Linked DNA regions of Homo sapiens. The protein of the gene in region 1 interacts with the protein of each later gene in a pairwise test. Each region holds a gene or a part of one and is shown in the gene's direction. Other genes may lie near its edges.

Evidence for each region.
Region 2: the proteins of PITPNC1 (region 1) and SCAMP5 interact in binary tests that used the Homo sapiens proteins (3 or more experiments, as listed by UniProt).
Region 3: the proteins of PITPNC1 (region 1) and ANKS6 interact in binary tests that used the Homo sapiens proteins (3 or more experiments, as listed by UniProt).

What each region holds. Positions count from the first base shown.
Region 1 is NC_000017.11:67,667,007-67,675,005, forward strand, and holds part of PITPNC1 (cytoplasmic phosphatidylinositol transfer protein 1), read left to right. Parts: intron 1-2,501; coding exon 2,502-2,657; intron 2,658-7,999.
Region 2 is NC_000015.10:74,991,051-74,999,561, forward strand, and holds the start of SCAMP5 (secretory carrier-associated membrane protein 5), read left to right. Parts: upstream 1-4,512; 5' UTR 4,513-4,623; intron 4,624-4,971; exon of another isoform or gene 4,972-5,264; coding exon of another isoform or gene 5,265-5,270; intron 5,271-6,183; exon of another isoform or gene 6,184-6,266; intron 6,267-8,511. UniProt on the Homo sapiens protein: Required for the calcium-dependent exocytosis of signal sequence-containing cytokines such as CCL5. Probably acts in cooperation with the SNARE machinery.
Region 3 is NC_000009.12:98,730,990-98,738,035, reverse strand, and holds the end of ANKS6 (ankyrin repeat and SAM domain-containing protein 6), read left to right. Parts: intron 1-1,412; coding exon 1,413-1,517; 3' UTR 1,518-6,027; downstream 6,028-7,046.

The sequences.
Region 1 (7,999 bases):
TTTGATTTTGTGTCTCATCCTATCTACTTCTCAACACAGGACCCCTTGACTGCCAGGTTTCTCCTGGGAGGGGAGATGCCAATTTTCTGCTTCAGCCTGTAGACTCCGCTGTGTGCTGTGAGGTTCTTTCCCTTCCTGGGGTCCAACATCCCCGTGAACAGGACCAGGACTAGCCCCAAACCCACAGCTGGACAGCAGATCCTGGAGCAGCTGCACGTCTTCTTTATGATAATGAAAACTGGCTGGGCCCGGTGACCCACGCCTTTAATACCAGCACTCTGGGAGGCCGAGGTGGGCAGATCACTTAAGCCTAGGAGCTTGAGACTAGCCTGGGCAACATGGCAATACCCCATCTCTACAAAAAATACAAAAATTAGCCAGGCATGGTAGTGTGCACCTGTAGTCCCAGCTACTTGGGAGGCTGAGGCAGGAGGATTACTTGAGCCTGGGAGGTCAAGGCCGCAGTGAGCCATGATCCTTTCTCAAAAAAAAAAAAAAAAAAGTACTGAAAATTAGCTCATACATACATATTTAAGCATAATTACTGGGTTTTATATAGTTTACATGTTCTAAGGTATCTCTGAAAAAAATAATCTTCTAATGAAATAATCAGCAAATGATTGGCTAATGGCAATCATTAGACAAATATTGGATGATTAAACTTAAAAAAAAAAAAAAACCCTTGCTGGGCACAGTGGTTCATGCTTGTACTTTGGGAGGCCTAGCACTTTGGGAGGCCAAGGTGGGTGGATCACTCGCGTTCAGGAGTTCGAGACCAGCCTGGCCAACATGGCAAAACCCGGTCTCTATTAAAAATACAAAAATTAGCTGGGCATGGTGGCGGGTGCCTGTGATCCCAGCTACTTAGGAGGTTGAGGCAGGAGAATTGCTTGAACTCAGGAGGCAGAGGTTGGGGTGAGCCAAGATCAAACCACTGCACTCCAGCCTGGGTGACAGAGCAAGACTCCATCTCAAAAACAACAACAACAAAAAAACCCTTTTACCTGTTTTTTTCATTCTTGTAATTGAAGTATAATACAAATCTTAAGTGTAAAACTCAGTGAATGTGTACACGTTACATCCAGGTCAACATATAATCATCCCAGAAGTTTCCTTCATGTCCCTTTGCACCAAGCCCCCACCCCCAAAGAGATTACTGCTCATCTAACTTTTATCACCATACATAAAGTTTTGCTTGTTCTTGAACTTCAATTTGAATCATACAATGTATATGCTATTGCATTTGGCTACTTTTGCTTAACATAGCATCAGTGAGAGTTGTACACGTTTTTGCATGTATCAGCCATTTGTTCTTTTTCATTGCTGTGTAGTATTCCATTGTGCACCTAGACCACAATTTATCTGTCTAGTTTCTTGCTTATGAACATTTGGACTGTTTCCAGTTTTTGCCTCCTGTATTTAAAGCTGTCGTGAGGCCAGGTATGGTGGCTCACACCTGTAATCCCAGTACTTTGGGAGGCCAAGAAGGGAGGATCACTTGAGGTGAGAAGTTGGAGACCAGCCTGGGCAACATAGTGAGACCCATCTCTACAAAAGAAGAAAAGAAAAAATTGAGGCCAGGCACGGTGGCTCACACCTGTAATCCCAGCACTTTGGGAGGCCGAGGCGGGCAGATCACGAGGTCAGGAGATCGAGACCATCCTGGCTAACACAGTGAAACCCCGTCTCTACTAAAAACAAAAAAATTAGCCAGGCGTGGTGGCGGGCACCTGTAGTCCCAGCTACTCGGGAGGCTAAGACAGGAGAATGGCGTGAACCCGGGAGGTGGAGCTTGCAGTGAGCCGAGATCGCACCACTGCACTCCAGCCTGGGCGACAGAGCGAGACTCCATCTCAAAAAAAAGAAAGAAAGAAAAAAAGAGAAAAGAAAAAATTGAGACACAATATAATTCACCCTTTTAAATAAATGTGCAATTCAGTGGTTTTTCGCATATGCACAAGGTTGTGCAACTGTCACCACTGTCTAATACCAGAATGTTTTCATCACTCCAAGAGGAAATGTTATATCCATTCATAATCACTCTACATCCCTTCCTTTCCTCAATCCATGTCAACTACTAATCTACTTTCTGTCTCTATGTTTGTTTGTTTGTTTTTGAGATGGAGTTTCGCTCTTGTTACCTAGGCTAGAGTGCAATGGCGCAATCTTGGCTCACCACAACCTCTGCCTCTCGGGTTCAAGCAATTCTCCTGCCTTAGCCTCCCGAGTAGCTGGGATGATAGGCAGTAGGTGGGATTACCACCATGCCCAGCTAATTTTTGTATTTTTAGTAGAGATGGGGTTTCTCCATGTTGGTCAGGCTGGTCTTGAACTCCCGACCTCAGGTGATCCGCCCGCCTCAGCCTCCCAAAGTGCTGGGATTACAGGCGTGAGCCACCACACCCAGCCCTATTTCTATGTTATTTAATACTTATTCCTGACATTTAATAATGATGGTCAAACTTTTAATATATCAATTTCTTTGATTTTTTTTTTTCTAGGATCCTAAGCACTTCAAGTCAGAGAAGACAGGACGGGGACAGTTGAGGGAAGGCTGGAGAGATAGTCATCAGCCTATCATGTGCTCCTACAAGCTGGTGACTGTGAAGTTTGAGGTCTGGGGGCTTCAGACCAGAGTGGAACAATTTGTACACAAGGTAAGTGGTCCAACAGCAGTTCCTGGGCTGTGGACAAGGTAACTGTCTATATTGCCAAATTGGAGTCCATGATACACAACAGGTGCACAAATACATCAGGTCACTGCATCTCAAAAACACTTTTTGGGCCGGTTGGGGTGGCCAACACCTGTAATCCTAGCACTTTGGGAGGCCGAGGCGGGTAGATCACTTGAGGCCAAGAGTTCAAGACCGGCCTGGCCAACATGGTGAAACCCTGTCTCTACTAAAAATACAAAAACATTAGCTGGGCATGGTGGTGGGTGCCTGTAACCCAGCTACTCAGGAGGCTGAGGCAGGAGAATTACTTGAACCCGGGAGGCAGAGATTGCAGTGAACCAAGATCGTATTATTGCACTCCAGCCTGGGCAATAAGAGAGAAACTCTGTCTCAAAAAATAAGAAATAAAAATAAAAAATAAAAAAATAAAAAATACTTTTTGGATGAAAATGCATTTTATGCATAGGTTCAATTTTCTTCCACTAATAGATGTTTTATGCCCCATCTCTCATTCTGTGACCTCCATGTCTATTAGGCAAGCGTATTTGGGAAACACACTTCTCAGTTTGGTATTGGACTCATCTACTCCCAGACAGAGAAACTTGGGAAACAGCCAAAGGGCTTATCTGTGAGCACAGCCCCTAAGGTTAATTGCCACCCAAAAGATCTACAAATGTAAGCACCTAAGCAGAAGATGCCCAGAGGTAGAACAAGAAATCCCAATAGTCCCATTAGACAGTATACCCCAGCATTTCTGCTTCTTTAATAATTCTGTTACTAAAGTAGCCAGGTGTGGTGGCTCATGCCTGTAATACCAGCCCTTTGGGAGGCTGAGGCAGGTGGATCACTTGAGGTCAGGAGTTCGAGACCAGCCTGGCCAACCTGGTGAAACCCTGTCTCTGCTAAAAATACAAAAAAATTAGCCGGGTGTGGTGGCACGTGCCTATAATCCCAGCTACTCAGGAGGCTGAGGCAGGGAGAATTGCTTGAACCCAGGAGGCAGAGGTTGCAGTGAGCCAAGATCGTGCTGCTGCACTCCAGCCTGGGTGACAGAGCAAGACTCCATCTCAAAAAAAAAAAAAAAAAAAGGAAATAATAAGAATAATTCTGTTACCAAATAATTGTTAACAGCCTCGGGATGCAGATTTCAATTGTAAACCTACTTTGGCTAAACATGTTCATTTTGGTTTTTTGTTGTTGTTGCTGCTGCTGTTGTTTTGAGACGGAGTCTCACTCTGTCGCCAGGCTGGAGTACAGTGGCACAATCTCAGCTCACTGCAACCTCTGCCTCCCGGGTTCAAGTGATTATCCTGCCTCAGCCTCCCGAGTAGCTGGGACTACTGGGAGGTGCGCACGCCACCATGCCCAGCTAATTTTTGTATTTTTAGTAGAGATGGAGTTTCACCATGTTGGCAGGGATGGTCTCGATCTCTTGACCTCCTGATCTATCTGCCTCGGCCTCCCAAAGTGCTGGGATTACAGACATGACCCACCGTGCCCGGCCGGCATGTTCATTTTGTAGCAGAATCCCACTTGGTGAAGAGTCATATTTTCTCAGGGTTTCTAACATGACTCTGTCCCTCATGGGAGAAAAAAATGGGAAATGCAATGTTGAGCATTGCCCTTTGTAGCTGCTCTCATTTTCATAAGAATAAATACTACCCAAATTGTCTCTACATTCCAGATAGGCTGGTTATCTGTTTATTTTTCCACTTAAAAACTGATAAGAGTAGCTTGCCAAAATTATTTTGGAGTCACTGGAATTTAACCTTAATGCACTGAGCTTTTTGTTACTTAGATGGATTTGTCTATTGAGATTGGGGGCCAGTTAACAATAAAAAGTTTAATTCTGGAATTTAGGTCCAAGAACTAGACTGCCAGTCTCTTGAACCCTCATAACTCAGGCTCACGGTAATGGCAGACTCTGGCACAAACATGAGAGCCCTGGGTGTTTTCTTGAACAGAGAAGCATGCCACTCCTTTCCCGTGCTCCAGAACCCAGCCAGCCAGCCAGGAGCCAGAATGAAATGTGATACGTAGAAATCAAGCTCCAGGATCTCCTGTTTTCCTCCTGTGTCCTGATTATTGCACAGGAAAGCAATTGCAGCTCCCAAAGTAAATGTTTTCCAGCCTCAGCTTTGTGTCTATCTAAGGCAGTGTCTTCCTTGGTTTCCCACAGCATCCCTTTTTGTGTGTGGCTTTTTAAGGTAAAAAGACTTCCTCTTACTAGGGCCACTATCATAGTATTATTTTGTTTTGTTTTGTTTTTTTGAGATGGAGTCTCAATCTGTTGCCCAGGCTGGAGTGCAGTGACATGATCTCGGCTCACTGCAACCTCCACCTCCCAGGTTCAAGCAATTCTTGTGCCTGAGCCTCCTGAGTAGCTGAGGCACAGGTGCATGCCACCACACCAGGCTAACTTTTGTATTATTAGTAGAGACGGGGTTTCACCATGTTAGCCAGGCCAGTCTCGAACTCCTAACCTTAAGTGATTTGCCTGCCTCGGCCTCCCAAAGTACTGGGTTTACAGTCGTGAGCCACCATGCCCGGCTTCATAGTGTGTTTTCCACTCACAAAGCATATTTAATAAGGCAGAGTTGTCAGTTAAAAAGAGAATAATACAAAATAAAAATAAGGCTGGGCGTGGTTCACACCTGTAATCCCAGCACTTTGAGAGGCCGAGGCAGGCAGATCACTTGAGGTCAGGAGTAGTTCGAGACCAGCCTGGCCAACATGGTGAACTCTCATCTCTACTAAAAATACAAAAATTAGCTGGGCGTGGTGACAGGTGACTGTAGTCCCAGCTACTCCAGAGGCCGAGGCAGGAGAATCACTTGAACCCAGGAAGTAGAGGTTGCAGTGAGCCTAGGTCGCGCCACTGCACTACAGCCTGGGGGACAGAGCAAGACTCTGTCTCCAAAATAATAATAATAATAATAATAATAATAATTTAAAAGGCCATATTTATATTGCCCCAGGGTCCACTGTGTTTCTTTTCTCACAGATGACTCAGGCTAGTTTTGAGAATCTGTTTCCTGAAAATACCTGTAAGATTTATGCCTTGCCCTTTCCAAATATAAGGAAGTGTTATTGACACTCCAGAAACGCACCTGCTCTCGCACGTGAGTCGCTAATGAGTATCTGAGGCTAGCATTTGCATGGGTTGAAGGTGCCAGGGATGCCTTTCTCTGAACACCTTTGTTTTTTTAAGAATCTATTCACAGTTAAGGGGAAAAAAATGTTCGAAAGCGAGCCATGAGCACATTATTGAATTCTGGTTTCCAGCCGACAGCTGTGTTGTGCTTCGTGTAATAGGGTACATTTACTGATGCCTCGATGCTGTTCTTTTGATTTCCATGAATTTGAGACACTCAGCACTCAAGTGTGTATAGCTGTGTGTTGTTTCTTGTATTCATTATGTGTTTCCTACTTTCAAGTCATAAAAGCCTCACTAGATATCCAGAGGCCTGGAGTCATAAACACTTCATTATAAATGCTTTCCTTGTTTCTGCAAATTCACTGAATTAAAATCCTTCATTTATTGAAACATGCTTGAACCTTCCACGAGAGGTTTTTCACAATCACTGGATTTGTTTGGCAGGAAGAAAGGAATGTTACAGGGATACTGTGAGTATCCAAGAAATGTAAAAAGACATATTTACCCAGGATGGAAAAGAATACCATGAAATAAAAACACATGAACAGTATCTCACACACGCAGACACACACACACACACAAATGGTATATACTATTTTCCTTAGCCTTCTATTGCCATTATGTGTCACCATAAGAAACAATTTCATCCTTTTTGTGTCCAGTCAAGCTTGTCATTCCCATTACGTTCTATTCTAGTTCAGGTCTCTTTTTTCATCCTTTCAATGGTAAACGGCCTTTTTCCCCCTCTTCTATTACATGAAAGTCAAACCTAAAAGGATATTTACTTATCTTGTATCTCACACATTCATTTATGCTTGTTTAAAAATTGAGGCCAGGCGTGGTGGCTCATGCCTGTAATCCCAGCACTTTGGGAGGCCGAGGCAGGCAGATCACAAGATCAGGGGTTCGAGACCAGCCTGACCAACATGGTGAAACCCCGTCTCTACTAAAAAAATACAAAAATTAGCCGGGCATGGTGACAGGCACCTGTAATCCCAGCTACTCAGGAGGCTGAGGCAGGAGAATCACTTGAACCAGGGAAGCGGAGGTTACAGTGAGCCGAGATCGCAGTGAGCCGAGATGGCGCCACTGCACTCCAGCCTAGGGGACAGAGCGAGACTCCGTCTCAAAAAAAAAAAAAAAAAAAAAAAGATAAAAAGAAAAATTGAATCAATATTTATTTTTTAAATAATTTTTTGTGGGTACATAGTAGGTGTAAACATTTAGGGGGTACATGAGATGTTTTCATAAGGCCTGCAATGTGAAATAGGCACAATGTGAGGAATGGGGTATCCATCCCCTCCAGCATTTATCCTTTGTGTTACAAAGAATCCAATTACACTCTTAAGTTATTTTAAAATGTACAATTAAAAAATTGAATCAGGCTGGGTGAAGTGGCTCACACCTGTAATCCCAGCACTTTGGGAGGCCAAGACAGGTGAACTGCTCGAGGCCGGGAGTTTGAGACCAGCCTGGACAACATGGCGAAACCCTGTCTGTACTAAAAATACAAAAATTAGCCAGGCATGGTGGTGCGCACCTGTAGTCCCAGCTACTGAGGAGGCTAAGGCACAAGAATCGCTTAAACACAAGAGGCAGAGGTTATAGTGAGTTGAGATTGCACCACTGCACTTCAGCCTGGGGGACAGAGCAAGACTGTCTCAAAAAAAAAAAAAAATCAGTATTTAGGATATGTCATCAGAAAAGAGGGAATGTTAAGTGCTGTTCACTTTTTAGGATATGTCATCAGAAAAGAGGGAATGTTAAGTGCTGTTCACTTTTTAGGATATGTCATCAGAAAAGAGGGAATGTTAAGTGCTGTTCACTTTTTAGGATATGTCATCAGAAAAGAGGGAATGTTAAGTGCTGTTTGCTTAGAAGTGACTTGCTGTCGGCCAGGTGCGGTGGCTCACATCTGTGATCCCGGCAGTTTGGGAGGTCGAGGTGGGTGGATGACGAGGTCAAGAGATCGAGACCATCCTGGCAAACATGGTGAAACCCCATCTCTATTAAAAATACAAAAATTAGCCGGGCATGGTGGCCCACGCCTGTAGTCCCAGCTACTTGTGAGGCTGAGGCAGGAGAATTGCTTGAACCCTGGAGGCAGAGGTTGCTGTGAGCCAAGATCGCGCCACTGCACTCCAGCTTGGCGACAGAGTAAGACTCT
Region 2 (8,511 bases), on another chromosome or scaffold:
TCTTTCTTTCTTTCTTTCTTTCTTTCTTTCTTTCTTTCTTTCTTTCTTTCTTTCTTTCTTTCTTTCTTTCTTTCTTTCTTTCTTTCTTTCTTTCTTTCTTTCTTTCTTTCTTTCTTTCTTTCTTTTTTGGCAGGGTCTCACTTTGTTGCCCAGGCTGGAGTGCAGTGGTTGAAGAACATGGTTTACTGTAGCCTCAATATCTCAGGCTTAATGTGGTCCTTCCACCTCAGCCTCCCAACTAACCAAGACTACAGGAGCATGCTACCATGTCAAGCTAATTTAAAAAACTTTTTTTTTTTCTTTGAGATGAAGTCTCACTCTTGTCCCCCAGGCTGGAGTGCAATGGCACAATCTCGGCTCACTGCAACCTCTGCTTTCCGGGTTCAAGCGATTTCCCTGCTTCAGCCTCCCAAGTAGCTGGGATTACAGGCGCCCGCCACCACACCCGGCTAATTTTTGTATCTTTAGTAGAGACGGGGTTTTACCATGTTGGCCAGGCTAGTCTCGAACTCCTGACCTCAGGTGATCCACCCACCTTGGCTTCCCAAAGTGTTGGGATTACAGGCATGAGCCACCGCGCCAGTCAGGGGAGGCTCTTTGTTAAGAAAGAAGACTCCATATTGTAAACTTCCACAGGACTAACAGCATGGATGATAACGTGATTAACAGGATTATCATGGAGGTGACATAAGATGGCTCAGGAGCCAGGCTGATGGGTTTAGGTCCTGGCTGTGGTAGATGTCACAACACAGTGCCCTTCCCATACCCCTTTAGCCACTCCTGATGTTTTTTTACTATAAGCCCCTGGGATTTTCTGCCTGAGGGTGCTCTCTGCTCAGAAGGCACTCCGGCAGGCTGGAGGTGCCAGGAACAGCTCTCAACTAATGAAGAAATCATCAGTGTCATCACTCCTTCAGTGGGATGAGTACCTTGTCTTCTTCACTCTCCCAGAGATGCCCAATACAGTCAAGCCCCATTTGTCCACAGTGGTAATCTGCTGATTATTGCACCCTATATTGCTTTTCTTCATTTGTTTGTTTCACTCCCCCTCTCTCCTACTAGTGCTCCACGGAATCATCTCTCAAATGGACCATTTATATGAACATCCTTATCTCAGTGTCTGCCTCTGGGGATACCCAGCCTAAAGATAGTGGTTCTTTTATTTCTTAGATCTATCCATCCAATTTCCTTGGGCAGATCACTTTACCTCTCTGAATTTCACTTGGCTCATCTATAGAATATGGATAGTATCACTTCTTTCTTTCTTTCTTTTTTTTTTTTTTTGAGACCGAGTCTCGCTCTGTCGCCCAGGCTGGAGTGCAGTGGCGGGATCTCGGCTCACTGCAAGCTCCGCCTCCTGGGTTCATGCCATTCTCCTGCCTCAGCCTCCCAGCAGCTGGGACTACAGGCACACGCTCTCATGCTCGGCTAATTTTTTGTATTTTCAGTAGAGACCGGGTTTCACCGTATTAGCCAGGATGGTCTCGATCTCTTGACCTTGTGATTCACCCGCCTTGGCCTCCCAAAGTGCTGGGATTAGAGGTGTGAGCCACTGCGCCCGGCCCAATAGCACTTATTTCTTAGGATGGTCATGCAGTTTAGCATTTCACTCAGACATTAAAAGTTCAGTAAATACTTCTATTTTTATTCGTTTACTGGCCTGTAACATAAATATTCTCCCAGAGACTCTTGGATGGACATGCCTCATTCAGGCATAGCTAGGCAGGGAAAGATAAGCAGCCTGGAGCTGGCCCTGTGGGACATTGATTGATTGGGTTCCTGTTCCCAGTTACTTGCTCCCTCTGCAATGGGATTAAATGTCCCCACCATTTGTCATGTGACTTATCTGGCATCCTGTATGGGTAGCATACCTCCCTGACCCCCATGAATTAATTTTGGGCTTACCCATGTGACTTGCTTTGAGTAATGGCATATGAGCAGATGTGACATTCTCCACATCTGCAAAGAAGCTTGAAATGTGTTACTGCATGGTTTGGCACAGGCTCTCTCACCCCTGCCCTCCACTACAACAAAGACATGTCTCCAGTGCCTGCCACGCAGTTTGAGCTAGCACCTTTAAATACTTTATTTATTTATTTTTTTGAGAGGAAGTCTTGGTCTGTCGCCTAGGCTGGAGTGCAGTGGCGTCATCTAGGCTCACTGCAACCTCCACCTCCTGGGTTCAAGGGATTCTTGTGCCTCAGCCTCCTGAGTAGCTGGGATTACAGGTGCACACCACCATGGCTGGCTATTTCTGTATTTTTAGCAGAGATGAAGTTTCACCATGTTGGCCAGGCTGGTCTCGAACTCCTGACCTCAAGTGATTCGCCTGCCTTGGCCTCCCAAAGTGCTGGGATTATAGGCGTGACCCACCGTGCCTGGCTTAAATACTTTATTTTTAATTTTTAAAAATTGTTTTATCCATCTATTTACAGATCATTAAATACTTACTGTGTACCAGGCAGTCCCATATGTTACATGTGTCTGCATGTATTAATTCATTTCATCCTTGCAGGAACCCTAAGACACGGGTCCCATTATCACCATCCTTATTTTACATATGTGGAAAACTAAGGTTCAGTGAGGATTAGTACCTTCTCAAATTCACACTGCAGGGAAGGGGCAAGGTCTGCCTTCTAGGTTGATATTCTTAACCACTGCTGTATGCTTCTTCTCATGGTAGGTAACCAGCAAATGCCTATTAAGTAAACGTTTGTTTAAGTGATCATTGTTCCCTTCCATTTACCTGAATAGGAAAGGTACAATCTACTGGGACAAAGGTGGGCTTCTGACTTTGGACCTGCTCACTCTTCCTACGTTAGTTGTTTATCAAATAGGAGACCCTTCTGATTCTTCTGAGTGGAGAAAAATTGTCCGTGGTCATCAGACGGGAACCCCAATATTTCCCTTGTAGGACCTACATGAACCACAAGATATCTCCTATAAATTCCATGTGGTTTCCAGACATCTTCCTTGTGGATCCCAGTGTGGACCTCAGATCTCTCTCCTAAAGGCCTATGTGAACCCCTATATCTTTCCTGAGGCCCACATGGACTCCCAACATTTTCCCTGTAGCAGCCACACTTGATAACTTCGACAGGTTCCCAGTTGTCATCTCATTGGCTGCTCTCCACAGCTCTGTAAATCAGCCTTGGCTTGCATTATAGCAGGGAGAGACAGCATGTGGGTCAACCAGGGACAGGACTGACACAGAACCCAGTTGTCCTGCCCCGAAGCCCAGGACCCTTCCTTCCTGGTTGGCCTGGTGGCAGGATGATGCTTCCTGCTCAGCCCTTCCCAGGCACCGAGGCTCTCTCCCTCCTTTTCCCCTCTGCCACACTAGTTCTTGTCTGCCTTTTTTCACTGCCACCCCCTTTTCATGCCAGCTGTGGGAGTGAGGCCCCACTCCTGGCAGGATGGAGCCAGACAATGGGCCCTTATTCTAGGCAAAGAATCCCTGCAGTGTCTCCCACCCACTGAGGCCCCCTTCCAGGCCTAGGATGGTGTGGGTGGGGGGTGGAGGGTGGGTGTATGGTGTAGGGGAAGGAGCAATTGGCTGGCAGGACAGACAGTGGCCCTGGCCCTGCCTGTAGAGATCCCACGGAGGTTTACTATGTAAACACCAATCACAATAAAATCCTGTCTTCACTCCCAGCCCATCTCTCCAAGTGGGTCTCTCTCAACCCTCCAAAGCTCTGGGTTTTTAAACATTTACCCTTGCCTCTACTCTCTCTTGGTATTCATCTCTGCATATCACTGTCTCTTTCATTCCTTTTTCTGAGTCTCTTTCTTTTTCTAAGCCTCTCCTCTCTCTCTCTCTCTCTCTCTGCTCCTTTGCGTAATTTGTCTCTATTTCTTGCCTCTTTCTTGCTTCATTATGCTCCCTTACCTATCTTATCTTTCCATGTCTTTTTTCTCTCCAGGCCTTGAGCTCTCATCTCAGTCTCTCTCTCCGTGTGTCTCTGTCTCTGTTTGCAGCTCTTCTTTCTCGTCCTCCTATGTCGTCTTTCCGTGGATCTGTGTCCTTGCCTCTCTGAATATCATCTCCGATCTTCCGTCCTCTGTTCTCTCTTTCCCCCTGCGCCTGCAGATCTGAAGGACCTTCCGCAGTCACCACACTCTCCTGCTTTCAGCTCTTTCTCACTCCTTTCTGGCACGTCCCAGAGGCTCCTGGCATAGGTATAGGAGGTTATTCTCCCCAGTTTACAGATATGGAAGCTGAGGCTCTGGCTGCTGGTGCCAGGCTCCCATCTCTGGGTCTCTTCCTTCCACCTACACGCCAGGCTCTTGTCCCTGAGGTGCCCGTCAACCACCTGATCCGGCCGGGGCCCGGGAACTAGCACCTCGGACAGCTCCTGGAAGATGCCGGGGCGGCCGGGTCGTCCTTCTCGCGAGCTCAGGAGGAGCAGCCTTAGGAGCAGAGCGGAAGTCTCGCGAGAGTGACTGCTGCAGGCAGTGGCGGCGCGGGCGCGCGCAGAGACGGCCTCGGGCGCGCGCGCGCGCGCGCGCGCTCCCCGCCCCCAGCCCCGGAGCGGCTCGCGGCCGGCTCCGCGCCGCATCGCTCGGGTGCAGCGCAGCTCAGCGCAGCGCTGCGGCCTTTCGGCAGCCGAACGGCCGCGGCAGGTGAGTCTGGGCATGAAGGCTGGGAGGAGAGCTTTGAAGGGAAGCTGGGCGCGGGGCGAGAGGTGTGGGGGTCGCTGGCTGCAGCTTTGTTCCTCCTACACTTCACCTTTGGATGCAGGAAGAAGGCCGAACTGCTGGAGAGGTGGGAGTGGAGGTGACCTTTACTGTTTGGGGCTGGGGGAGAGCGCTCAGGGCGCACCCAGGCCCCCCGAGCCCCCCAAGCCCCCCCATTCCCATCTGTGGCTCCCGCAGAGGGAACTGGGCCTTTGGGTGACGTCAGACCCTGGATCTGGAGCCTGAGCTTTGGGCCCTCCATCCCCCCCGCCAGCCCCACCTGGCGTTCCCTGGAAACCGGCCTTCTGGAGATGGCGTGCGCAGCCGGGGATGGGGGCGACTGGAAGGGGGTGCCCGTGGCTTCCTTTGGGCCTTTCCTTCCAACTAGCGCCTGCAGGTGGACCCGGGTTGACTTCCCTCACCTCCCTCGGGCGGCCGACCTTTGGATGGCGGACCTCAGCCGCCCCAGGGTTGCGAGGCGACGGGCGCGCTGGCCCAGGCCACCAGGCGGGCTCCATCAGGGCTTTGGGTGGTGAGTTGGGGGCGCCGGATTTGGCTCATTTCAACGCTGGCCGGAGGTCACGAGGATGGAGGTGAGGTGTTTGTGAACCGATCCTTGTCCTCCGCCTCGGGGAGCTCCTGGTCTGTGGGTTGGGGGAACCAAGTAGAGACTCGGACTGAGCATTCACTGTCACAGGCGGCTTAAACAAGTAATGTCCCAGCTTCCCGATGGGGAGATCAGTGAGGGCCTGGCAGACTTTCCCAGGGACACAGAGAGAAAGGGAGGCGACAGCTAGCGAATAGGAGACTTCCAGAGGTGATGGGATTTGGGTGGGAGGAGAGGCAAGAGAGGGCATTCCAGGAGAATGTATGGGCAAAGGCACAGGGATGAAAACGAGCACAGCTGTTGGGGGCTGAGCCTGGGAGCTCAGCCATGTGACTGCCCATGGGGTGGTGGAGTCTGGAGAAATTTGCAACCTGTCCCCTACATGTTCTGCCTCACGGAGCAGGGCTCTGAAAGAGGGAGATGGTTCTTGCAGGGGCATGATTGGCAGAGAGATTTTGTTTGGGGCTACACAGGTCTTGCTAACTTAGGTTTGTTCTGGGCTTGGTGAGCCTTAGGGCAAAGTCTCTAGAGCTGAGAGGGGGCTGTCTCTGGTGAATGGGCCCCTGAAAGAGGGTCTTAGGTTTAGCAAACCCCTTGGAGAGTTAGTGGGGTCCCAGGAGGGGAGTTCTAGAGAGAGACCTTGGGCTCTGTGGCTGTTTCTTTAACCGTTTCCTGAGTGGCCACCTCCAAGCAAGTTCCCCAAGTCACCTCCCCTCTCTGGGCATCTCTTTCTAGCACCTTTCTCTAGAGATGAAATAATAGGACTAAGTAGTGACCTCCCTTGAGGATGCTCCTTGTTCTAGTTTAGAGCATCCCCCCTTTCTTCTCCCTCTTCCTTTTCCTTTCCTCCCCTATCCCTCTGCCTCCCTGTCCCTATCCCCACCCCTTGCCCCCCACAGCATTTCCTTTACAGGCTGCACTTCCTTCCCTGCTGCCAGCCAGGAGTTTCGGAAGGTTTCCTGGAGGAAGTGTGATACAGCAGGTTTGACAGCAGCTTTGGGCTTAATCTGATTGGGGGAGGGCGTTAATTGCCTCCCTCCCACCCATTGGGAAAGTGTCCAAGTCTTAAGCAAGTATATGGATTGACTGTGCTCTGTGCTGGGTCCCTCCTGGAAACTCCATCCAGGAGGGAGTGAGGAGATTATGGGAGAAGACGTGAACACTTAGTGCCCAATGACTGACTCAAAATGTATGCAGCGGGATGCAGAGCAGCGATTTTTGGAAAGGCTTCCCAGAAGGGGTGGGATGTGAGAAGGTAGCAGGACTTAGAGGAGCTGATAGTGCTGCCAATTTAGGGGCACTGGAAGCAGAGGGGGCGGCTAGAGATGATCTCCTGCATGAGGCTGGGAGTGTAGGAGGCAGGTCAACCTGTGAGCAGCCAAAGGTGGTGGGAGGGAGGTTTGTAGCTGACTGGCACAAAGCCTTGAATGCCAGGCAAAGATCTGTAGGAGGCTACTGAATAGTCATCAGTAGGACAGGGACAGCATGGCCAGGAGACTGCTGTTTTCTGAGGATTATTCATAGTTCTGGGATTTCAGGGCAGAAGATGGGGCTAGGAGTGGGATGAGGGGATTGGAGGTAGAGCAGGAGGGGGAAACTTCCATCTTAGCAGGTTGGCTCTGGGCAGCAAAAAGGAATCACCATTTCTGTGCCAGGGATGAGGGGCCCATACTGGTGAGCAGGGAGCCCTGGAGTTAGCCCCAGGACTCTGGCCTGATCTGAAGCCAGGCTTGACCCTCGTCTGCTGCCAGAGGCCTCAGTCTCCCCACTGTGGGGGCTTCTGTCCTAGCTTCACAATAAGGAATGGAATACATTATAGTTAGGGTTTCATGAACAAAATTCAGGTAGTAACTGCTATCTTATTGATAATTAAGGTGTTTCCCTAGGCCTACATCTTTGGAGGGATATGTAGCCCTTATCCCCATTATAAAAGATTATCAGTTGAGCAGATTGCTAATTCTTCTGTTTTGTAGTCTAAGAACTTTGGTTTGGCCGGCGCGGTGGCTCATGCCTGTAATCCCAGCACTTGGGGAGGCCGAGGCGGGTGGATCACCTGAGGTCAGGAGTTCGAGACCAGCCTGGCCAACATGGTGAAACCGTGTCTCTAGTAAAAATACAAAAATTAGCCAGGCATGGTGGTGCACGCCTGTAATCCCAGTTACTAGGGAAGCTGAGGCAGGAGAATAGTTCGAACTTGGGTGGAGGAGGTTGTAGTTAGCTGAGATCGTGCCACTGCACTCCAGCCTGGGCAACAGAGTGAAACTCCATCTCAAAAAAAAAAAAAAAAAGAACTTTGGTTTGCAGAGGCCAGTGATTGCTGTCTTCCCCTCCAACCCCCCACCCCCCATTTCAAAGGCTTCCCAGAAACAAGGGCAGAGAAGCCTGGAGCCTTCCATTTCTGTGACCCTAGTCTTTTACCACCCTCTCAAGCCCCAGATTCTCTCTGCCCTAACCTTTATATACAAACAAGGCAGCTTTGCCCTCTGCTCTGGTTTCTGCTCTGAATTATTCATACTTTGCTGCACTGACTTCTCTGGAACTGTAAGCAGACTTTTGGGAGATTGTCTGGGACCAGGGACAGGGGTTAGGCTGGAGCCCGGTTAGGGAGAAGACTCCTCCTTTGAGGCCCCTATGTTCTAGTTGTTTTCTCCTCTCCCTCTGCTTCCTTGTTTTCCTGGAGGTCTTTAGTGCTGGACCACAGTCTCCCACTCCATGTCCCATTGTCTCAGGGGAGGTAGTGCCTCTTTCAGTCACCATTTTAACCAACTACATCTGAATGTGGTCCTCATTGGCATGTGGCCACCTCTGAAATCTTAAACTCTAGTATTTCTCTCTGACCACAGTCTAACTAATGCTTTATGTGCTCTGACCTCAAGGAGACCTCTAGTTCTCAGACACCTCCATTTTCTCCATCTCATGAATTGCCTCTTCCGTGTTCTTTCTGAACTCCATGCCCTCAACCACTTTGCCACTTTGCCTGTGTGTCACCCGAGCTGCCAGGAAGGGTCTCCAGTCTCAGCCATCCCTTCATCACTTATAGAAACCCCTCTCCTCATTCCCATCAGTTCCCCTTTCTATTCCATGGGAGGAGTATTCCAAACTGGACTACTCTCCCCAGGCCCTTTGCTCATGTAGAGGGTGGTTGGGGTGTGTGTGGGGGAGGTGGAACCACCCCCATGTTTTCCCGAGGCGGAGCTTGCAGTGAGCCGAGATCGCACCACTGCCCT
Region 3 (7,046 bases), on another chromosome or scaffold:
ACATGTGGCTAGCCAGTTATCCCAGCACCATTGGTTGAAAAGGGTGTCCTTTCCCCACTTTATGTTTTTGTTTGCTTTGTCAAAGGTCAGTTGGCTGTAAGTATTTGGGTTTATTTCTGGGTTCTCTATTCTGTTCCGTTGGTCTATGTGCCTATTTTTTATACCAGTACCATGCTGTTTTGGTGACTATGGCCTTATAGTATAGTTTGAAATCAGGTAACGTGATGCCTCCACATTTGTTCTTTTTGCTTATTCTTGCTTTGGCTACGCGGGCTCTTTTTCAGTTCCATATGAATTTTAGAATTGTTTTTTCTAATTTTGTGGAGAATGATGGTGATATTTTTATGGGAATTGCATTGAATTTGTAGATTGCTTTTGACAATATGGGCATTTTCACAATATTGATTCTCTCCATCCATGAGCATGGGATGTGTTTCCACTTGTTTGTGTCATCTATGATTTATTTCAGCAGTGTTTTCTAGTTTTCCTTGTAGAGGTCTTTCACCTCCTTGGTTAGGTATATTCCTAAGTATTTTTTTTTTTTATTTTTTTGCAGCTATTATAGAAGTGGTTGAGTTCTTGATTCGATTCTCAGCTTGGTCACTGTTGTTGTATAGAAGAGCTACTGATTTGTGTACGTTAATCTTGTATCCAGAAACTTTGCTGAATTCTTTTATCAGTTCTAGGAGCTTTCTGGAGCTGTCTTTAGGGTTTTCTAGGTAAACGATCATGTCATCAGCAAACAGCGACAGTTTGACTTCCTGTCTGATTGCTCTGGCTAGGACGCAGTCTCTGTTCTTAACCTCTGAGTATTGCTGCCTCCGAGCCTGGAATGCAGTGATGATGTTTTCTGGGCTTAACAGAACATTCACATCCACCCTCTTTTCTCATCTGAAAATGTGTGTATAGGGGGCAGGGGGCGTTGTAGGAATAGAGTGAGAAGTGAATCTCTGTGAAGACAAATCCGGCAGCTTTTGGGCAAAGGGAAGCAAAGGCAGTTTAAACTCTTATCCTGTAGCAGAAGGACACTTGGCTCCCATTGAATTATCTGGAAATCTAAGGACTGGAAAGATGCACAGAGGCGCAGGAAAGGAGACCTCGAATCCGGGCCGTGCGACTCGGGAGAAGTCAGTCCTGCCCCGGACTCGGCCTCCCACTCTGTCCAGGGGTTTGGGGTCCTGCATCCCAGGGCCTCTCCAGCATTGACAGGCTGCGATGGTGGGTACTGGGGAGATTCTGACTCAGTATGTTTTTATTGAACTCGGTACTCTTTCAGTTAGGTAATTTATTTTCCCCAAGACGCCCATGGGTTTTTGAAGTATGAGTTGAACATTAACAACACTGTGTCAATTGAATTAATGGTTAAAAGGTTTAATAAGACTTTCTGTGTCTGTTTTCAATTTCCTCCACAGGGACGCGAGAGACAAATTTTACAGGAAACCATTCACAACTTTCACTCTTCCTTTGAGAGCAGTGCCAGCAACACCAGGGCCCCTGGCAACAGCCCCTGTGCGTGATCCTCCTTCCCGCAGCCACCAGCGTGAGCTCTCTGAATCCCGGGACCCCTTCACGTGGCCACAGCCCCAGCCCTGCCCCCGTCACACTGCTGTGCCTTAGTCATGTTGTTCCCTTTGCTCGGGATGCCCACTTCACGTCGACGGCATTCATTGGTAGTACTTCTTGCTGCAACAAACTTCAACACACAGAGACAGATTCCCATGTAACAGTCCAGTGGGGGTGCTTCTGCTTGGCAGGTTGGTTCACACAGTGATGCAGGGACTCAGCTCCTTTCATCCTGTGCTCTGCCCTCCCCGGGAGCCTCAGAGTTTGCTTCTGGCTGGCGGCAAGGGAAAGGGACGATGGAGAAGGCACGGCTGCTTCTTACCTGCCTTGCTCTTAACTGACACACATCACTCCTGCTCACGTCCTCTTGGCCACTGGTAGTCATGTGGCCCCACCTGGATGCAGAGGAGGCCAGGATGTGCAGTCTCCACATAGTGGCTTCCCAGCAACAACTTTTGACTTAGATGGGGGGTATGTATTATGGTGAGAGGTTAGCCTTCCTGGCACATCTTCCCTTAAAACTTCTAACTTGCCCCTCCTAGTCCAAGTCACCTCTCAGATGAAGTCTTTTTTGACCCCCTTTCAGCCACTGGGTCCCTTAGTGCTGTGTATGTGACTGCTGTAGCATTCCACTGCACCTGCTGCATACAGCTTACATTGGAGATGTGTATGTCAAACGCATTTTTCTTTATTGCAAAGAGAGTCTATTATAGAAGGAAAGAAGTGGAGGCCTGCTGTGTGGATCCCTTCTTCTTCCTAGCTTTCAGTTTCCTTATCTGCAAAGTGGAAGGTCAGACCAGATGATGCTCTGGTACTCCACAGTGCTCACCTGTATCACTGCAGGGCTTTCTGCACTGAAAGTGGAAGCAGAAGGCTAATGGGTCACATTGTGTAAAGGTCTCTGGTGCTCAAAGTTTCTAGGCAAAGAAGTGAAAATTTGGAATTTTGTCTACATCCTATTAATGCTGTGTTCCTCAAAAGGGAATTGGCTTGTGTAGTTTCCTACCATATCATATTTTATTAAATTAGAGGGGCCCTGACTTTTAAAACCCACTGGCTTTCTGAAGTGTTTTCCAGTGAATGACTCATTCAGCCAGTGCTTGTTGCATTTATGTTAGCTACCAGGTGCCAAGTGTGCAGACACAATACAGAGCCTTCAGGCTCTCGACAGGCAAGAGAACACCTGTAAATAGATGGTCCCGACATTGAGAGGCAGCATGGTAGAGTGGGCAGACCTTGTGCTCTGGACTCAGGTTCAAAGTTCAGATGAAGCTCAATGGCCTCTTAGTTGGAGCTTAGAACCAGTATGCCCAAAGTGCTGGGTCTGCAGGAAGTACCCAGTCGATGGTAGGCTGCACAGAATTCTGATCTCTACCTTGAGCCATGCTGAGCCACAAGTTGGTCTCCTTGGGAGGTGCCATCTCTCATCTGTCCCTCCCCCAGCCATGAAAGCCCATTCCCCTATGCTGGCTTTCAGAGGCTGTCGTTAACTTACTGCCCAGAGCCTCGTAGTTTTCTTCCCCTGCCCTGATGGTTGGGTGTTTTTCCTTTAAATTCTCTCAGCCTTACACTCACAGAAGCCAACTTTCCACAGGACTGAAGACAAAGTGTTTCATTTAGCTGTTACTGATAGACACCTTTACAAAGGTTACTAATGTCCCAGCCTTTTTAAGGAGACACACTCATTCATCCCCTACTATGTGCTGGCAGCTTTACCTTTGTCATTTCATCCTCATGGCCACCCTGGAGGTGGCATTGTGTAACCTCATCTTGCACATTCGGGAAACGGATGCTTAGGAGAGGGAAGCAGCTTGCCAGTTAAACAGCCCAGAAGGAGCAGATCTGGGGTCAGAACCGGACCTGGTGGGCTTGCAAGCCTGTGCCTTTTCCACTAACTCCTATAGACTCCTGGAGCTAGAAGCACTTGTGATTCTTGTTTTAATTTACTGATGGCTTCAGGGGTTAACAGTAGGCCTAGAATTGTTTGCCTCTGAAATTCATGGCCCCTGACGTTATGTGCTTTGAGGTTTTGTGCCTGCTTTTTGCTGTGGTCCTGTTTTTTTCATAACAATATACTGGTATAGCTTCCACTCAGGTAAGTTTGATTGAACAATGATACACAGCTGCACCGGGGGGTCACCTTTTCACAAATGTAGACCTCCATGAACTCATTGGATGACCCTGGACAGAGCGGGGCTATTCCCATTTTGCAGACAGGACAGCAGAGGCTCCAGACAATGCCTTTCCTTTCTTTTTCACTGGACTCAAGTGTCCAAGGCTTTTCATCCTAGGAAGTTTGTGTGCTGGTTCACAAGAGGTCCCTGGCACCCTTTCTGGGGATGTTTGGATGCGGCTGGTAGGCAGGGAAGAGAAAGGGCACCCCAGCGGGGGCATGTGTGGAGGCAGCACGGAACATGTAGGTTATAGATCGTCAGGGAGGAGGGGTCAGTTGGGTGCTTGTTTTTCTGATTTTTGGTCCTTGATCACCCCCTTCCCTTCCCACACGTGTCCCCAGCCTGCCTGTGGCTGTTCCCCCCACAAGAAGCACCTCCCTTGCTTGGCAACCTTCACCAGCATTTCCCAAAAGTATGCTCCTGGGAACCCTAGTTCCACAGGATAATAGGTTTTTCATAAAGAAACGTAGGGTGTGTATGTGAAAGTGGGGTGAGGTTCCCTGGTTGAGTAGGTTTGGCAGACACTAAAGCGAGCTACACGATCATCTTTGCTACAGGCCTCTCACAACCTTCAGCATGCCAGCATGGGTCAGGCCTCTTCACAGGGCCAAGAAACTCATAGCATCTCCCACATTACTCTCATCACTTCTCCAAGGTGCTTTTGCAAGACTGGAATTCCTTGGACACCATTGGAGAAGCCCCGCTTTTTCTGGAACAGCGGCAACCAAGAGGCCTTGCAGCCCTGGAAGTGGGTCAGGGCCCTTGGTGGTCACCTTTTTCTCCCCAGCAGCTCTGCAGAGGTGGCCTGCTTGGCAGTGGGACATCAGGGGACCGGTCCTGCTTTGAGATGGCAGGGTCCCTGTTCTGAGAGCTCTCCAGCCTGAGGGCATTGAGCTGAGGCTCCACCCTGAGCTCTCCTGCAGGGTGGAGGGCATTGTTTCCCAGCACCCAGGCAGTGTCTTGCTGGTGTGTCGTGAGTGCTGGATGTCCAAGTCCCTGCTGGCCACGGAGGGCTCCTGCCTCTCTTCTTCAGCGCCACAAAATTACATGGAGGCCAGCTGGTTTTGTGAGGAGATTGTTTATTTTTTAATTCTTTTGTTTACCGAACGTTTACTGAGCATCTACCCTGTGCCAGCCCTACTCGTACGCTCTGTCTCCAAAGATGAAAAAGGACTTCTCTGCCCTCAAGGGAACCCCACAGTATCTTAGAGGAGACAATCATGTCGGTGAGATGGTGTGGTGATGAAGCCTGCTGGGTATACAGCTCAGGGAAAGTCATCGATGATGGCTCAGGCTCAGCCTGGGCACGCCCCAGAGGAGAGAGATGGAGTGGGGCCTCAAAGGGCAGGTTTAGGCAGAAAAGAAAAAGGGCATTCCAGCTGGGGCATGTGCAAAGGCAGCACGTAATGTGTAAGTTCTAGATCGTCAGGGAGGAAGGGTCAGTTGGGTGCCTGTTTTTCTGTTTTTAGTCCTTTAAAATGAGTAGAAGCAACCTGTTACCCTGGAAAGAGCACTGGACATAGACCTAGTGCTGCGTGATGTTGAGCACGTTTCTTCTTCCCTTTGAGTCCCAGTTTCCCTTTTGGTTACAGGGGGATAGTAGCCCCCAGGGATCATGTGAAAGTGAGAAAGCCCTTTTCACACTGTGGAGCGGTGCAGATGTGGGAAACCTCAAAGATGGTTGCCCATTTTAAATCCTTTCATCTCTCATCTCTCTTTCTTCTCTCCCTTCTGCCCTGACGTAGCCATGGTTGGGTGGGTGAGGCCAGAAGAAACTGCCTCCGGCAAGAGGTAGCAGCCGCTCAGGTGGCTCTGCTGGCATCGGAGCCCACAGAAGTGAGGAGTGGCCGATGGACCTGCCCTCCAAATGTGCCTGACTCTGGGTCTTGCTGTCACTGGATTTCCTGGCATGGCAGACAGAAAGAAAGATAGTTTGACCAAGTCGTAGAAGCTGATCCAGCGGGTAAAAAGGGGGCAGGGAACTCGTCCCTTTTATTCTTGCCTCAGAGCTGCCTGAAGACATGGGCCAGGCCGGAGGCTGGACAACTTTGGATAACGCTGACCTGTACTTCCAAGTAAATGCCTCCTGAAGAGCCCGGGACCCTTCCTGGGAGAATTCTGCAGCCAGAATGAAGGTGCCATCAGCAGGAGGCACTGTGAAGCACCATCCTGTCGCTGTCCTTGTCCATTCCTAGCAAGTTAATCGTGTCTTGTTAACCAGCAGTTCCTGTTCAACGTGTAAAGAGACCTGATGTTTTCCCTAATAAAGCTGATAACAGATTTTGCAGGACTGGCTTGCAGAAGGAATCTCCCTGGGTGAGGTGGGTCCTCTGGCCTCAGGGGGCTCTGCTCCTCCTTAACATGCAGCCTAAGAGTGGATTTAGACCCTGCCTTAATTTCAGCCCCCCAGCTGAGAATCCAGTCCCAAAAATAACAGTTGTTGTTGCCAAAGCTTGGGAATGATAGAAGGGAAATCCACACAGAATCACGGGTAGTGAGCTCGAGCACAAAGCCCAGTTCATTGTCCTCGGCTCCCCTCCCCGGCACTGCGCTTCCTTCCTAAGGCTGAGACCACCTCTCCCTGCCCTTGAGAACTCCCTTTGCTCCAGGACCCCCGCCAACTTGGGGCCCTGCCCAGCAGAGTGGAGCCATCTCGCATCAGCATAGGGACCTCCCAGGTTCCCATTTCCTGCTGGAGCCCTCTCCAAGGCTGAGACACAGGGCATGGCCATCCTTGTGTCGGAGACCCTGTCTCCACCTCTAGGTTTGGCCTTCCCCTATAGGGCCCTCACTAGGGCCAGTGTATTCACTGCCAAGAGTCTAGAATGCCATTTTAGTTTCTGCCCAAGGGAGTGTCTATTTTCCTCACCATAGACACTTTTTATTATTTTATTGTTATGTTTGTGCAGGGACTTAATTCTTTGAAAGATTATTGTTTGTCGGCCTGTGTATATTAAATGATGTAAAGTTATCTTCCCACTTTGACTACATTCATCCAAGGTGTAAAACACTGCCCAAATTCCTGCCTGTCATGGCTGCTATGGAGCGAGTCCCTGGGTCTGCCAGGCGCAGCTTCTAGAAGTCACCTTGCCTCATCTTCACAGGAACCCTGTGAGGCAGACTGAAACTCCTTTTTCTGTCAGTATGGTGACTGTGGCACACAGATGCTAACCAACTTTGTTGAGGTCACACAGCTGACAAGGGACAGTCTGGTCTGAGTGCAGGCCTCACACTCTTCCTGGTGTCTTGCTGCGTGTCGTCAGCACAGAGGGGAACGTGGAATTTGAATAAGCCCAGGCAACAAGACAA